Regions from separate parts of the Homo sapiens genome. Here region 2 is linked to region 1. Evidence: fine-mapped expression QTL. A gene starts in region 1. The other region holds a variant in brackets. All regions are shown on one strand. Distances are between the middles of the regions. Region 1 holds the start of CPLX3 (complexin 3). Region 2 overlaps CSK (C-terminal Src kinase).

Region 1 (8,453 bases):
GTCTCTAGGGTGAGGAGGGGTGTAGGCACAGGCACCCAAGACAGCTGCGGTCCAGCCCCGGCCCCACCTGTGGTCTCAGTGACGCCCCAGAGGCCCCATCTTCCCCACATAATGAGGCTGCTCCATCCTCCTCAAAGCCCAGACCTATTTCATAAGCCCCAGACCCCACCTTCACCCAGGGCCCCAAGAGAACAGAGCTGGAGACACTTCTACTCCTAGCACTGGATGCCTTCTCCCCTCCTGTGAAGCTGTAGGTGGGGGGTGGAGGACACCCCTTTAAGGCAGGCTCGGGGGGCTATGAACTCCAAGACTCCTGGAAGCCAGTAAGAAGTGGGAAGGTAGGCACACCATTTGGGATTTTTATTTTTCACTGAGCTAAGAGAGGAGATTCCAGCTATGGAATCCAGAGAGCGTTCTACAGGAACAGAACAGAAATTGGCTGGGCCCTGGGCCCAGAGGAGGCCTGGAGCCGCTTACTGTTCAGTGCCAGCTTCATCCTTGGCACTCTGCCTCTCACACAGCATCGCTCCGGCTCCCAGAGCCCACAGTGGCAGCCGCTGGAGGCTGTGGCAGCAGCTGCTGCCCTGCCCAAGGAGGGATGTGGGCTTGGCTCTGACAGTTCAAGCCAGAAAGAGCCTTAGAAGTCATTCAGGACATTCCCATTTTACAGATGATGAAATAAGGCTCAGAGAGAGCAGGGGCTTTCAAGAACAATAAAGGTGGAGACTGGAACTCAGGCCTCCTGTCTGCTGAGGGTGTCTGCCCATGCTCTCTCTCAGAGTTTCTGAGTGGTGGTGTCTGGAGGGGCTGGACACGCAAGGGAGCTGGCCTCGTGTGTGTCTGTCTGTGCCGGGATGTATCTGTGGCTTCTGTCTCTGAACGTGCCAGGGGTTTTGTGTCCTGTGTGTGTCTCTCTGTGGGTGCTCCTGTGTGCAGGAACTTGGGGCCATGGCCAGAGAGGGATGGGCCTATTCCTACAATCTTGGGAGGCCTCCACAGGCTGAGCTGGTGGGGAGGGTCCTGAAGGGTAGAGTGAAGATGGGGACTTTACTCCCAGCGGAGAGGAAGAAACCAGAAGATAGGCTTGGGGCATGGATGGGAAAGGTCTTGGAACTAGGATGGGGCAAGGGAAACAAAGCCCCAAATGGAGTATGGGTCCCTGGAAGTTGACACACTCTTAGCCCTCATGGGGGCCCAGCCCAGTGGGTAACCCCGGGGAAGTGGTCACATGACGTGACACTTCTCAGCTGATTGCTTGAGATCCCCCAGTGTGGCCTGGGCCTTGTCCTTGAGTGAGCCCAGGTTCAAGCCAGGAAGGCTGGCCAGCTGCCCAAGGACTGAGGCCTTCTCCTCCTCCTCCTCTGTGTCCTCCTCGATCATCTTGGCCAGCTCCCGGGGCAGCTCCACGTCTCCACCTGCCATCTGGATCTGGCTCTCATCTGTCTCGTTCTGAAGGGAAGAGGGGAAGAGGGGGTGGGGTGGAGTGGAAGTCTGTGAGGACCCAGAGTTGAGAGGACAGGGAGGAGGCTTGGACTGGGTTCCAGGCCCCTAGATTCTATTTTTTCTTTTTTTTTTTTTTTGTAGAGACGAGGTCTCCCTATGTTGCCCACGCTGGTCTCAAACTCCTGGGCTCAAGTGATATGCCCACCTTGGCCTCCCAAAGTGCCGGGGGAATACAGGAATGAGCCACTGTGCCCGGCCCCTTAGATTCTTGAGCCCCATGTTCCAGTGAGCTCAGCTCCCACCCCCACATCCCAGGATCAAGCGTTTGATGCCTGGACATGGAGACCTTTTTATATTACCTTATTTCACTCTGAGATGCTGAAGGACCAGCACAGTGAGTAAAGACAAAATGAAAATACCTATGAGTCACACTGTTACAGTCAGCTAAGTCATGTTTTGACTCTTGTTATGCTTAAGGGTGTAACCAAAAATAGTGATGGGTACCATTTATCAAACATCTATTATATCTATTACATGGCAGACGTTGAGCTGGGTGCTTTTAATTCTCACAATAACCCTGTGAGGTAGGTAGGTATTGTTATTTCCACTTCACAAATAAGGAAATTGAGGCTTACAGGATTTAAGTAACTTACTTTAAATTTAAGTTACTTAACTAACTTAAGTAACTTAAGTAACTTAAATTATCCAAGATCACACAGGCAGGATGTTGGGGAGCTAGATTCAAACCTATGTCACTGATTCCAACATCTGTGTTTTTTTGCATGGCACCTACGATGACCATTGCCCTTCACTATTCTTCTGGGGGGCGCCTTATGTCCTACTCAGTTGCATCCAAGTCTTGGCTCTTCTGCTCAACTCTGACTTTGCTGATGGCAGGTGTCTCTTATATGCCTAGCGCAAGCATCTGAGGAATGATTTTATTCCTAGAAGAGTTTGCAGTGAGGCAGGCTTTCTGGACCGGTTTTTCCCCGTGACAGATTTCCAAAAGATTGGTGCCCTGTGGGGAGTCAGAAGCAGCTGGGGACTCAGTAAATATTTGTTGAATGAGTGAATGTGATGTTCATATATTTGGTCATTCAATTCAAGTGGAAGATCAAAATCAGGAGCGCTATAGCCCTGTGCTGTTTTCCCCTGAGTCCAGCACAGTTCTGGATGCACTAGGGTGATATTCTGGGAGAGATTTGTGCTTCATTCCCCTCCTTAGACAACAGGAGCAGCACACTTACACGCCCATCTGGTGGTGCACTGCCCAGGGGAGCGTGGGGGCAGGGATCTCCTGAGATATACTCTCTGGCTGCTTGGCCGGCCAAGGGGGTACTTGGCTCTCTACGGGCAGACTCCATACTCTGGAAAGCAGCCTGGGGCCCTGGAGCAAAGGCAGGCTCATATTCACCGGCTTGAGGGCTGGTCCCAGCTCCATGGCTCACTGGCTGTATGATCTTAGCCAAGTCCCTCCATTTCTCTTAGCCTCAGTTTCATCTTTTGTCGCTGTGGGTGATAGCTGCCTGGCAGCATTATTGGGGGTTAGATGAGGACATGAAGGTCAAGTACTTGGCACACACAGGGCTTCTCTCCCCCACCTTAAGTAAGTTCTGCCCTTCAGTAGGTTCAGAAACCCCCAGAACACTCACCTCTGCAGTCAAATCTACTGATTTCTGCCTCCCCTGTGTCTTCCTCTGCCCAGGCCTGGCCCAGGCTTGGTGGGGATATGGGGGGTGGAGGAGAGAAGAGGCCTAGATTGGCTCCAGAAATACAGACCTGTCAGTCTCATGAGGACTGGGGTCCCCTCAGCACAAAGCCCTGGCCCTTGGTGGGCACAGATTTAACTACGAGTGAGTGAATGAATAAAAGAACAAATGAATGAGAAGGAAGGATCTAACCAAATACCCTGTGAGTCTCATAGCTGAGGGCTGTGGTGCCCAGAATGGGGCGAAGGAGTCCAGAACCCAGAGCTCAGGGTCCCAGATGTGCCTCACAGCCGGGGCCAGCTTACCTTGGGTAGCCGGTATTTGTCTCGGAAGTGGCTCCGCAGTGTGGCCCGCTCTGCCTTCCTCTGTGTGAACTGTGCATCCCGCTCCATCCTGCAGGGTCACCGGAGGCAGAGTCACCACGAGGGCTGAGAGAAGGGGGTTGAGGTCTTCGAGGGAGGGACAGAAGGGGTCTCTGAGTCCTAGCAGCTGCTGCATTGGTCCCTGTGTGTAGCAAAAGCGCTCCAACCCGGACATCCAGGTTTCTGCTGCCTCTGCCCATCACAGTGCCCTTTGTCGTCTCTGCCACTGGATGGAACTAGGGAACCAGGGTGGCAGTCTGTCTGGCTCTCTCTGCAGATCCTAATTATTTGTCCCTCATGGCCTCCAACTTGGTCTGCTGTTCCCTCACTGACAAGCTATGTCATGTGGGGAAAAGTATTCAGGCCAAACTTGGGTTCACATCCCAGCTCCACTACCATTTTAGGTATATCCTTAGGTAAGTCACTTACCTTCCTCTTCTGTAAAATGGGGATAAAATTTTGCAACTCACAAAACTGTTATCAGGATTGAGCGAAATAATAGCTATCATTTATGAGACTTTATCATGTGCCAGGTGCTGTGCTAAACAGTTTACATGCATTGGCATTTAATCTTCATAAATATACAAGGCATGTATTATGATTACCATCCCCACTTTCCAGAAAAGGAAACAGAGGCACAGAAAGGTTAAGTAACTTGCCTAAAGTTATCCAGCTAATAGGCAAAGCCAGGCTCTGAACCCAAGTAGCCTAGCAGCAGAGTCCAGCCCCAAACTCTGTCCCAGCACTGCGGGCACACAAGTGCTCAATGTTTGTGAGTGCCCCCATCTCAGGGTCTGTCTCCGCGACTCTGAGCGGCTGCACCACTTTTTTCAGAGCCTCAAGTTCAGAGGAGCCCCAGTTGGAAGACATAGGCGGCTGGGACCAGATCGGATTAAGGGATTATCGTTTCGTCAGAAACGCACGTGCACCCCCTTCCTCGTCCCAGGCTCCGGTCGGTCCCTCGTCCGGTCGCCCCTCCCCCCACTCCCCCTTGGCCGGAGCATGATGCTGGAGCGGGGTTTTGGGTGTCAGATAGGATGGGTCTGGGGGCAGTGTAGAGGACACCTCCCGGTCTCTTACCGTGTCTAGGAAAGTAGGGGAGAAGGGATTGGGACCTGAGGCTGGCCCGGGGATGGACTGAGCAGCTGTGGGGGTGGGGAGGGGAGGTCGTTGGAGCCAGGAAGGGATCCCACTCACTTCTCTTCCACGAGTTGCTTCTGATACTCCTCGTACTCCTCCCGGCTCATGCCCTGAGCTTCGGCTGCCGACTTGTCCCCATCTCCCTTATCCTCGCCGCCTCCCAGGCTCCCAGTGAGGTTCTTCAGCTGGCCGCCCACCATGGTCTTCACCATGAACGCCATGGTCTTCGCCGGCCGGGGCACCGGGCGCCTGCTACCACGCGCCAGGCACCGGGCACGTCCGCGCCTACTTCAGCACTAGGTTTCGCGGACAGCTCCCGCCGCGGGCCCGCGCCCCACGCTTGGCACCGCCCGCCGCCCGCCCCCGCCCGGGCCCGCCCCCACCTCCCCAAACCCCTCCTCACTGGGGGCGGGGGGCAGCACGGGGCTGAGAAGGCTGGACCACGTGCCCGCTCCCCACTCCCGCCTCCCCCACGTGCCTCCTTCAACGCCGAGCTCCGCTGGGCACTGCTGACAGAGGATTAGGGCCTGCGGTGGTGGGGTCGCTCTCCCGGGAGAGGGGTTGAGCTCATACACTCCCGGAACCCTGTTCCATAGCCTCTTCCAACTTTCTCCTCTCCTGGGCCACTAATAACTAGGATTTCAGCTGGGAGATCCAGGTAGCAGCAAGGGGTAAAAACCCAGCCTTGGGTGCCCCCCATTCTCCCCACCCACCCAAGTCACTGAACCCAGCAGCTGCCCAGAGAGCTTGACGCTGGAAAAGGGAGGGAGACCTGAGGGCGCGAGCGGGAATCCCAGTTATGGTTCCACGAGTTGGCCTCTCAGGGTTGCTCTGTCACGCGCCTCCCCTGCTGCCCCTGGAGCAGCTAGGAGTGGGGAGGGAGAGAGCTGCTCAGTGATGCTGGCTGAGCTGGGCCAGGAGGGACACTGGGAGACACTGCTCTCTGTTATGGGTGAGTTTGAGGACAGAATTATATACAGTCATGGCTCTCTTTCCCTCCATAGTCGAGGGTTCAAAGCCCGTGGGGTATCCGGTCTTTTGGAGGTTAAGCCAGGCCTTGGCCTCCTTGCCTGCTTGGAGCGCACTCCCAGCCAGGTACTCAGAAGGGGTGGAAGCCTTCACAGAGATTAGGGTGAGGCTGGAAAGAAGACCAGCATATCACAGCATGGGGAGAGGGAAATCACCTTTAACGAGGTGGGAGCATGCCGAAAGCTCAGGTGTGCGTGGGAGCTGGGCACCCAGACGGAGAGGATACTGACCAAGCCCCCACCCAAGACACTGCCTGCTTCCCAGTGATGCAAAGCAGGCTCTGAGGTGGGTCAGGCAGGCATGCTGGCAGGGAGAGGCTGCCTCCTCAGAATCCCCAGGGCCCTGGGGGTGTGTGGTGCAGGACCCAGAGGAAGGCTGCCTGTGGACAGACACTCCTGAAGGCTCTTGTTCAGCTCCTGCCTGCTGCCAGAGAGAAGGTTACAGGTTACTTGCGTCTCTCCTTTATGGGCTTTTGAAAAACCAGGACTCTCATGCTTGCCTTGCTACACTCACTGCACCACAACCTCCGCTGTTCTTGGACTTTCTGTGGCTCCTTTGGCCCGCTGCATATGGTCCACGCTTTCCCCCTGGGCATGTAAGGTCTGTCCTAGTGGCTCCAGGCTGATTGCCACCACTGCACTCCTGTGCATGTGCTGAAGCCTGTGAGCATTTCTACCTTGTGCTTTTTAAAGCTTAGCTCATTTTACTCCTCCTCCAGGACCATCCCAGCCCACACGGACTCTTCTTGTCTTGAAATTCCACCAACAAAGATTGTCAGTCTCATTGCTGAGGCCTTTAGCACACCCCACATCTCTAAACGGTGCACGTTCATTCAGCAAACACACACCAAGCAAAACTAGTGACCTCCTCTCACTTTTTCAGATCTCTTTGCCCAATTTCACAAACTCGTCCTGCCCTTTGCTCCAACATTACTGAACTTGCCACTTTTTCTCTAAAATATTATGTTTTTCTCATGCCTCCCTGCCTTTTCTCATGCTGTTCCCTCTGCCTCTATGCCTTTACCTATCTTGTCAGGGTGGAAAACTCCTAGTCACCTTAATGACCATATCAAATGTCCCTTCCAGGTTGATTCCCTAACCAAGGGGGGTCAAGTGTGTTCTCCTGCACTCTCGTAGCCCCTCAGCTTCCTGACATCATGGCATTGACGACACAGGGTCAGTTAGACCTGTGTGAGTGAGCTCCGTGAGAGCAGGACCCAGATGGGGCTGGGGGCCGAGCAGGTGGTCAGTAGTGCTTGGTGAGAGAATGGGCCCTATCCCGCACTGTGCTCTTTGTGATTTGGGGACTCGGCAGGTCCCCTCTGAGCTGAAGTGTCCCCTCTCCTAAATCCAATGGTTATAGCTGAGAACCAAGAGATGCCAGTGCTGTGGGAAATCCTGCTCACGGGGTGGCCCACCTGAAGTGCACGTAGCCGAAGAAGCCTACAGTCTGAATGAGGAGGTAGAACAGGAAGATGCCAGGCTGCAGGCACGAGGAGGCCCTTGGGGGCTGGCCAGGTGGGCGGGGGGCCTTGGCTGCTGCCTTCTGAAAGGGGAAAGTCTAAGGTCCTAGCTTAGCTTCTTACCCAGAAGGAGTGGGGGACCTGGAATCTAGGCCATGTGCATGCTCCGTTTCCTTTCCCCAGGCTTGGGGCGTCCTGGCTCTCATCCAGGGAACTTGGAGAGGGGGCAGTGTACAAAGCTGCCTCCCCCACCCCAGCTCCCATGGCTGCATCTGTGGGAACAGCTGGGAAGGCCTGGGGCCTGGGATCATCAAGGGGCCCAGGGTTCAAGAGAAGAGAAGAGAGAAGTAAAGAGCCAAAGACAGGGTGAGCAGGGTGAGGGCGAGGGAACGAGGATGGGACAGGGCATGGGGAAGCGCTGACTACCACTGGACTCAGTGATCTTGGACACAGCCCACCCTGTTTCCCCTCTGGTCATTGGATATTGGATCGAGGGGTGTCCAGGGCCCTGCTGCTGCTGAGTCTGTGGGACTCTTCAGAGAGGAGAGAGGACAGAGAAAAGATGAGATGTGTGGTGGCACGTATGCACGGACACACAGACACTGACGCAGGCACAGATGTGCTTGCCAGCAGTCCTGGGAGGGGAGGGCAAAGGCAGGAGGGCTTGGGGCTGCTGAAGTGCTGGAAGAAGGGTGGCTGAGCCCAGACGTCAAGGTTGGGGACCCCATGCTGCCCACTACTTTCCCCTCACCGCCGGGCCCCGAAGCTCCTCCTGCAGGAGGCCCAGGATGTGGTCCAGCTCTAAGAAATGATGCTCAATGCCCACAGGCAGGTAGGAGACCTGGGCTTCTGCAGCCATGCGGACAGCTGCATCCCTAACCGGGGGTGGTAACCAAGTAAGATGACTCATTACCTCTTCTGCTTCCACCCAGATGGCCTAATCATTTCCCATCTCCCCAAGGGCAGCACATGGATGGGGAACAGGTACCATCCATGGGGCCCCTTCTTGGGGGCTGGTCTTTTCACCTCCAACCTTCTTCCTAGATCCTGAGACTTTAGCTCAGATAAAGATCTCCCTAAAGCTATCTGTGTCAACCCCAGGCTCCCCGGCTCTGCCTTCCATTCCCAGCCCCTGGGGATTTAACTCCTTTCCTTCTTCTCATCTAGGTGCCTCTCCACCCCCAACCCTAGGCATCTAGCTGTGTGTGTACAGGTGGGGCTTTAGGCTTCAGCCTGGGATGCATGCCTCCTCCACAGCATCCCCAGGACTCCCCCAACCCCCAGGGCTCCAGAGGCCTGGCCTAGAGT
Region 2 (8,453 bases), 24 kb after region 1:
GTTTCTGAATCCTAGCTGGCTTGGACCAGCTGTGAGAGCTGATTGCTGGAATCCCCATCCAGCGCTGTATTCAGTGAAGTCAGATTGGTGCTTGAAATTGACCACAGTCAGAGTATTAACTCCGCGGATATCAGCAAATGCTATAAATCAGAGCTACCCCACCCAGCCCGTGTCCTAGATTTGGATATTAAACATTCATCAGTGCACCACTGCCTGAGTCTCCCTCCTTCTCTGCACTTGCGGAGGGACTATCCCTCTCCCATCTCAGGCCGGTTCCCCCATGTTCTGGGTTCCCACCACCCACCCCCTGCTCTAAGGAAGGCTCTACCATCTACATACCACCCCTCCTGTCTATATCTCTTGCCTCACTCTCAGTACTCAGTACAATTTAAAGGTCAATGTCCTTCCCTTTGGCAGCCAAATTTGCTCAAGACTCTGCTGTCTTAAATCTACCAGCCGGGTGCGGTGGCTCATGCCTGTAATCCCAGCACTTTGGGAGGTCAAGAGATCGAGACCAGCCTGGCCAACATGGTGAAACCCTGTCTGTACTAAAAATACAAAAATTAGCTGGGTGTGGTGGTGGGCACCTGTAGTCCCAGCTACTCAGGAGGCTGAGGCAGGAGAATCACTTGAACCCGGGAGGCTGAGGTTGCAGTGAGCTGAGATTGCGCCACTGCACTCCAGCCTAGGTGACAGATCGAGACTCCATCTCAAAAAAAAAAAAAAAAGAAAAAGAAAAAGAAAAAAACCCTAAATCCACCACATCCTCCTGTCACTCTTCCTCTCTCATCTCTCCATTACAACTTCATTTCTCAGACTGTCCACCTCTTGCGTTTCTCACACCCTTCTCTAGTCACTGTGATCTGGAATCAGCCCTTATCAACACAGACATTGTGGCTAAAACCAAGGGGCAGTTTGGCCAGGTGCAGTGGCTCATGCCTGTAATCCCAGCACTTTGGGAGGCCGAGATGGATGAATCACTGAGGTGAGGAGTTCAAGACCAGCATGGCCAACATGGCAAAACCCTGTCTCTACTAAAAATACAAAAATTAGCCAGGCGTGGTGGTGGGCACCTGTAATCCCAGCTACTTGGGAGGCTGAGGCAGGAGAATTGCTTGAATTTGGGAGGTGGAGGTTGCAGTGAGCTGAGATTGTGCCAGTGCTCTCTGGCTTTGGCGACAGAGCGAGACTCCATTTCAAAAAAAATAAATAGCCAGGCATGGTGGCTCACGCCCGTAATCCCAGCACTTTGGGAGGCCAAGGCGGGTGGATCACGAGGTCAGGAGATCAAGACCATCCTGGCTAACACAGTGAAACCCCGTCTCTACTAAAACTACAAAAAATTAGCCGAGAGTGGTGGCAGGCGCCTGTAGTCCCAGCTACTCGGGAGGCTGAGGCAGGAGAATGGTGTGAACCTGAGAGGTGGAGCTTGCAGTGAGCCGAGATCGTGCCATTGCACTCCAGCCTCGGTGACAGAGTGAGACTCTGTCTCAAAAAATAAATATAAATACATAAATAAAAACCAAGGGGCAGACTCAGCCTCCATCTCTGTGCCTTCTGGGAGGCGGGGACCCTGGTGGCTTCCTCCTCTTGAAGTTCTTTTTCCTTGGCTTTTACGACATGGCACTGGCATGGTCAACCTCCTCTTCTTGACCTTTTTTTTTTTTGAGAGATGCAGTTTTGGTCTTGTTGCCCAGGCTGGAGTGCAGTGGCATGATCCCGGCTCACTGCAACTTCTGCCTCCTGGGTTCAAGCAATTCTCCTGCCTCAGCCTCCAGAGTAGCTGGGATTACAGGTGTGCACCACTGCGCCCAGCTAATTTTATATTTTTAGTAGAGACGAGGTTTCACCATGTTGGTCAGGCTGGTCTCTAACTCCTGACCTCAAGTGATCCACTGGCCTTGGCCTCCTGAAGTGTTGGGATTACAGGCGTGAGCCGCCGCGCCCAGCTTCTTGGCAGTTTCAAAGCCTCACTTAAAACTCAATGTGTGGCTTGGTGTGGTGGCTCACGCCTGTAATCCCAACACTTTGGGAGGCCGAGGTGGGAGGACTGCTTGAGCCCAGGCGTTCAAGGCTAGCCTAGACAACATAGGGAGACCTCGTCTCTACAAAAAATTTAAAAATTAGCCAGTCATGGTGGCAGGCACTTGTAGTCCCAGCTACTTGAGAGGCTGAGGCAGGAGGACTGCTTCAGCCTGGGAGGTCAAGGCTGTAGTGAGCTGTGTTTGCACCACTGGACTCCAGCCTGGGTGTCAGAACGAGACCCTGTCTCAAAACAACAAAAACCTTAACATGTCCTTAACAGAGCTCATGATACTCCCTCCTAAGCATGAGTCTCCTGTCCTCGCTCAGCAGATGCCCCCTGCTGCCCTCCCTGCATCCGTTCTGCTCAATCAGGCCTTGCTACGGCCCTTCCCTCTCCTCCACTCTCACACTGAATCCATAGCCAAGTTCGGTCAATTTTAGCTCTGGAGCTAAATCTCTCTGGAGACCGTCTCTCATCTGGACCAGTCCTCACTGTACTCTCTGAAACTCCTCTACCAGTAGCTAGGGTGATTTCAAAAACACATATCTGGGCCGCGTGCAGTGGCTCACGCCTGTAATCCCAGCACTTTGGGAGGCCGAGGTGGTGGATCACCTGAGGTCAGGAGTTTGAGACCAGTCTGGGCAACACGGCGAAACCCCGTTTCCACTAAAAATACAAAAATTAGCCAGGCATGGTGGCGCATGCCTGTTGTAATCCCAGTTACTTGGGAGGCTGAGGCAAGACAATCGCTTGAACCCAGGAGCTGGAGGTTGCAGTGAGCTGAGATGGCACCACTGCACTCCAGCCTGGGTGACAGAGTAAGACTTCTTCTCAAAAACAAACAAACAAACAAAAATTATCTGACATCTCACCCTCCTGATCAAACTTGTCATTGGCTTCCCATTATTCTCTGTTTGATAAAAGCTAAGTCTTTGCCACAGCCACAGCCTCACCTCTCAGGCCTGGCTGTTCGTCCATCCTCACCCACTTTCTTGGAGATCTGAGACAAAGCTGCCCTCCCTCCAGTCTCAGCATCTCTTCCTGGAATGCTGCTAACTCCTGCCATACAACCTGTTCATTCTGCTTCTGATCTCAGCTTAAACGCTGCTTCTTTCCAGAAGCCCTCCCTGATCTACAAAGATTCCCATGTTTTGTGTTCCTCATGTAGCACTTAAGTTTGTCACTGTCTATATGTGACTATTTGATTGTCTTCCCAACTGTGGACTCCACAGGGTGTGTTTTGCTTATTGATGAACCTCAGTCCTAGCAAACAGCAGGTATTCAAATATTTGTTGTTGAATGAATGGTGTAGTTTTAGAAAAATTAAGTCTGGCAGTATGCAGAGAAGATGAAGTGGAGGCGGCGAGGAGGCTGTTGCACTGGTAGATGGAACTACAGTGGGGCTGAGGAACAGACACAAGGTAGACTT[C/T]GAAGTCAGATCTTCCTGGATTTCAGGTCCTGTTGGCTGGTAGAGGAAGGGTCGGGGCCACAACAGGACAGGGGAACACCCCACCTGCCTGCCTCAGGGAATACATGAAGCCTCCTCACACCTTCAGAGGTTCTGTACTGACCACTGCCCCTGGACAACCTGAGTGAGGGGAGAAAATCTCATGGCTGGTCCACATTCTCTATATGTTCCCCGACAAGGTGGGGTGGGGAGGGACTCCCCCTGACTGGAAGGTGCCAGGATCTCCCCTCTGCCCTGCATCCTCAACCCCTGCCAAGTCTGGTATGACCTAAGGCCTGGCACATGGCAGGGGTGGGGACAGGGCAAAGCTGTGACATCGTGGGTGAAACTGGAGAACCACCAGGAGCTTTCCCGTCCCTCTCCGGGTCAGCATCTTCTCAGGCATGAGACACTTCTCCTCCTGCCAGAGGAAGCCCACTGGGCCCACCATTGCTTTTTCTCTCTCTTGCACAGGGGGCTTGACTAGAACCCCGTTCCCATCTGTGCAGGCCTGGGCTCCCTCCCATCCCTAGCTGTAGCCCTCCTTGTGCGGCAGGCTTGAAAACAGCAGGGGAGGCAGCTGGAACCCCCAGGCAGCATCCTGTAGATGGGGCCCCGGAGCTGGGCCTGGCGGCAGCAGGGCAACTGGTGAGCACTTCCCGGAGGGCAGACACAAGGACACTCACTCGTGCAGCTGACACAAAGCGGCGGCTACATCTCCCAGCCATGCTCCCCACCCAGCCCCACTCACAGACACAGGGGGATGGACAAGATGGCATGGGAGGGACGACCGGGCAGGACAAGCAGGCTCGGTGGAGGAAGCGCCGAGGCGGGCGGCGGTGTCCTCATGGCGTGGTTTATTACAATTCCATCTCACAAGGCGGGTGGGCGGGTGGCAGCGGCACACGAAATCCAAGCCCCTGACAGACGTCTGCCTCGGGCGCATGCAAACAGTGCAACATGGTCAAGCGCAAACACGGGGCGACCGAGGAGACACGGGACATGGGACACAGAATGGGGAATGAGGCTGGGGCGAGGGGTCCCTAGAGAGGGGCCCGGTCCCCCCCACCCTCACGGGCAGGACAGGAAAAATAAGATTCGTACTTCTTGTAAAATGCCCATTTGCTGGGTACTTTCTTTCTCCTTATCTTGAAAAATAATAAAAAATAAACACACGGAAAAAAAATCTCAAAAAAGGAAAGGAATAAAACTCTAAGAAGGCGAGTGGCGGGAGGCCAGGGAAGCCCGACGTGGTGGGGCGCTGCCTCCCGCTCCGTGGCCTCCTTCCTCCCTGGCCCCTCAGTGGGCTCCCCAGGCCCCACAGGTGGGTCCAAGAGAGACGGGGCCGGAGGGGTGCAGGCTGGGACGCAGGAAAAAGGCCCGCCAGCCCGCTGGGGCTCAGTTCAGGCTCGGGCCCAGTGAGCAGGGGCACCAGGTCCATGATCTTCCAGGTTCAGTCCCCACAGGCCCATGACCCAGGCGGAGGCCAGCCGTCACAGGTGCAGCTCGTGGGTTTTGATGTGCTCAAGCTGCTCTCGGAGCTGTAGGAAGGAGGGCCGCATGGCGGCGTCCAGGTGCCAGCAGTTCTTCATGACTTCATAGACTGCGGGCGGGCAGCCGTCGGGGGCATCCATCTTGTAGCCCTTCTCCACCCGAGGGACGACGTCCTTCAGGGGCTGTGGCCAGGGGGAGGCAGGAGTCAGTCCAGGCCCTGGCCTCAGAGAGGACACCTACCCAGCAGCCTCTCAGGGATGCCCATCAGCTTTGCCGCAGACCCAGGCCCGGAGAGTGGCCTGTGAGCTCCCCAGGGCAGGCCTGAGGCTTCTAGGCCTTGATTGGGGAGGCAGGGCCCAAGGAGGCTCACGCCCCTGCCAACCCCTCCGGTGCTCCAAGAGCCACCCTGATCCCAGTACCCATACTCACAATTCTTGGATAAGGCACTCGCCCAAAGGAGTAGATTTCCCAGAGAAGGATTCCGAAACTCCACACGTCAGACTTAGTGGAGAATTTCTGCCATGTGGATGGAAGAAGCAGCGTCAGATCCTGGGACTCCAGGGTGGGGAGTGACCCAGGACTCCTGCCCACCTCTGTAGGCCCCAGGGGAGGCCAGCCCCACCTTCTCTCTCAGGGCCTCAGGGGCTGTCCACTTGACTGGCAGCTTGCCCGTGTCCTGGGTGCTGGACGCCTCCTTGGTGAGACCAAAGTCGCTGACCTTGGCCACGTTGTCCTCAGACACCAGCACATTGCGGGCAGCCAGGTCTCGATGCACGAAATTGTTGCCCTCCAGGTATTCCATGGCCTCGCAGACATCTCTGGGGGTAGGCCAGCCACATGTCCCCTCAGACTGGGGCTCCCATAGCAGGGCAGGGTACCCCTCAAACCCTACCCATCCAAGAGGCTGCTTCACTCACAGCGAGAACTTGAGGAGACAGTCTCCGCCCAGCACTGACCGACCCCTAGACCGCAGGTAGTCCACAAGGCTCCCCTGGGGGCAGGAAGGACAGACCAGGCCGAGGTCAGACGTGCCCTGCAGCCCTCTCACACAGCACGCTGGGGCCGGGTGGGTGTTGACACTCCAGGGAGGTGTGAGACAGGGAAGGAGTGGGGAGGGGCCAGAACATCCATGCCGGACACTGCTCTGTGTTATTCATGCCTTATCCCTTGACTCTCACAAATCTCTAAGTTGTTATTATCTCCATTTCCCAGATGTGATGCTGAGGCTTGGAGGTGACATGATTTGTCCAATGTTACAGTCAATGAATGGTAAACCAGGACAAAAGCCCAGCCCTGGTGACCTAAAAGCTCACTTGGGGTCGGGGGACTGAGGGAGCAGGGGCCCTAGAGCACAGTGGGGGTTTCGGGGCAGTTGGAAGGCCTGAGTGCCGGGTCTCGGCAGGTGCCCACCTTGGCCATGTACTCAGTGACGATGTAGAGCCCGCCCTTCTCCTCCACGATCACGCCCAGGAGCTGCACCAGGTTGCTATGCCGCAGTTGCCTGGGGCAGGACGAGAGTGGTCAGAAAGGGGAAGCTGGTGCCTCACTCCTAACCTAGGCCAACCTCCCCCCTACCCCGCCCCCACTCACGTCATGACTGAGGCTTCAGCCAGGAAGGCCTGGGCAGTGGCGTCGTTCTTAATGCACTTGACGGCGACTTTGTTCCCTCGGTAATCGCCCAGCATCACGTCTGGGGGCAGAGAGGTGGTCTTGTTCCCAAGTTCGGAGTCCCTCAGAACCCCCCCAGGGGGCCCGGCCCAGCTCACCTCCGAACTCCCCCTTCCCGATGGTCTGCAGCAGCTTCAGCTCCTTCATGTTCAGGGCCCAGCCGCCTGTGGGGAGGGGCCAGTGAGGGCCTGGAGGCCACTAGGGACATGGCTGGGATGACAGAGGCTGACTGGACTATCAGGCACTGGGGTTCTCTGGAGGTTCCTGGATGGGGCAGTGCCAGGAAGCCTGCGTGGGAGGAGGTGGGTGGGCAAGAGGTCTGGGGTGGGGTGCACTCACTGCGGTAGAACTCATCCTGGGCCGCCACTGTGCCCTCCATGACCTTTGGTTTAATGAGGCGCGTACAGAGTCCATCTGCGTCTGAGGTGTAGTGCTGCAGGGTGTGGGGGGCAGGGTGCTCAGAGACAGCCCAAGGTGCCCCATATGCACCGTCCAGGCCTGACCACCAGAGGGCGGCAGAGGCCAGCCCCGCCTAGCCTGGAGTCACTGAGTGGGGAGGGCTCCCCATTTCTGGTAGGGCAGGGGTTAGGGAAGTCCCAGATTATGACGTATGGCCCATTTCCCATGCCACCCTACATGCGGTTGCTGGACACTCAGCTGCTGCTACCACTCTGGGCCCCATGGGTATCTGATGCAGAGGGCAACCCATGGCTCAGTCCTGAAACCAGCCTCTAGCCAGGAGTGCCCAGGACCCCACCCTCACCTGCCACAGGCCAAGCCAGGCCAGTAGGGGAGGGAGATAAGAGTGAATACAGAGGGACACGGGAGGCTTCCTGTGGCTACCGGATGCCAGGTGTGGCCTGGCCAGGGCTGGCAGAGCTGGCCTGGGAAGCTGCAGGGACCTGTGGGCATGTCCGTGCAGGTGCGAGAGCCTCAGGGGCCCTGGCGATCAAGGCGCATGGCTCATGTTTCTGCACACGCTTCTGAGCATGCAGGTCTGTGAGTGGCTGGAGGAAAGTTAGCTCTGGGATCAGACAGACTCAGATTCTAGTCCTGGCACCAAATTATATCTGTGGGACCTCAGGTGGGTCCCCTAACTGCTCTGAACCTTCAACTCCTGGTCTATAAAATGAGGATAAGGCTCCCCTCCTCATGGTGGCACTGTGGGGTCAGAGGTGAGTCCTGGCACGCAGCAGCTGCTCCACCAAGGTGTGAGGAAACAAGGGCTCACAGAAGTTGCCCCACATGGCTGGTCACCACGCAGAAGCAGTGGGGCTGGAGCTAGAAGCCAGGGCCCCAGATGGGTTTAGGGTGTGTGAGGGTGGGAGCAAGGCTCTGTACCCCCCAGCTCACCTCCACCAGCTGCATGAGGTTCTCAAAGTACACCTCCTCGTCGATGCTGAGCTTGCTGGCATGGTACATGATGCGGTAGTGCTCCACCTTGCCGTCGCAGCTCACGCACAGCGTGTAGTCTCCGGGGTAGTTGGTGCTCTCCCGCACCAGGAACAGGCCTGTCTCCGGCGGGTACAGAAGCCGCTCAGCCTGCTCCCGTGTGATCTTGCCGTGGAACCAACTGGGGAGCAGCAGGGCTGGAGGTCATGGTGGCCCAAAGGTACTGACCCTGGCTCCCCTTTCTGAAGGGGTTCCCTCTGCTTGGCACCCGTGGCTCGCACTCGCTCAGTCAGGCATTTGAGGCCCTCTTCTTCTGCTCCCTGTCCCTTCTTTGCCACCCTCCTGCCTCTGCCCCCAGCCCTGCTCTGTGAGGTCCCGCACCCGCACCCTGCACCTCCTCCTGAGGCCCTCCCCAACACCCAAGCC

Evidence for each region. PIP is the estimated chance that this variant, and not a neighbour inherited with it, causes the effect.
Region 2: its variant is fine-mapped to the expression of CPLX3 in whole blood (TOPMed, PIP above 0.99).

Annotation. Positions count from the first base shown.
Region 1 is chr15:74,823,126-74,831,578 of GRCh38, reverse strand. CPLX3 (complexin 3) reads right to left here and starts at 4,952. Exons shown (of 3, transcript NM_001030005.3): 1 at 4,712-4,952; 2 at 3,458-3,545; 3 at 1-1,449. The coding sequence starts at 4,875. The coding sequence ends at 1,225. It overlaps LMAN1L (lectin, mannose binding 1 like), which reads right to left. Exons shown (of 14, transcript NM_021819.3): 12 at 7,897-8,020; 13 at 7,101-7,228; 14 at 5,825-6,103. The coding sequence ends at 5,974. It overlaps LOC105370897 (a long non-coding RNA gene), which reads right to left and starts at 3,447. Exons shown (of 2, transcript XR_932478.1): 1 at 2,691-3,447; 2 at 1,878-2,461. RefSeq lists a silencer at 4,763-4,970.
Region 2 is chr15:74,799,027-74,807,479 of GRCh38, reverse strand. CSK (C-terminal Src kinase) reads right to left here. Exons shown (of 13, transcript NM_004383.3): 5 at 7,989-8,208; 6 at 6,975-7,068; 7 at 6,734-6,799; 8 at 6,558-6,657; 9 at 6,378-6,468; 10 at 5,885-5,958; 11 at 5,590-5,785; 12 at 5,397-5,483; 13 at 4,283-5,149. The coding sequence ends at 4,967. Among named protein-coding and RNA genes, the nearest start is that of LMAN1L, 9.6 kb to the left of the region's middle. RefSeq lists enhancers at 5,949-6,798, 6,978-7,272, 7,277-7,396, 6,799-7,650, 7,926-8,453. The variant C/T (reference allele first, on the strand shown) is at 3,456.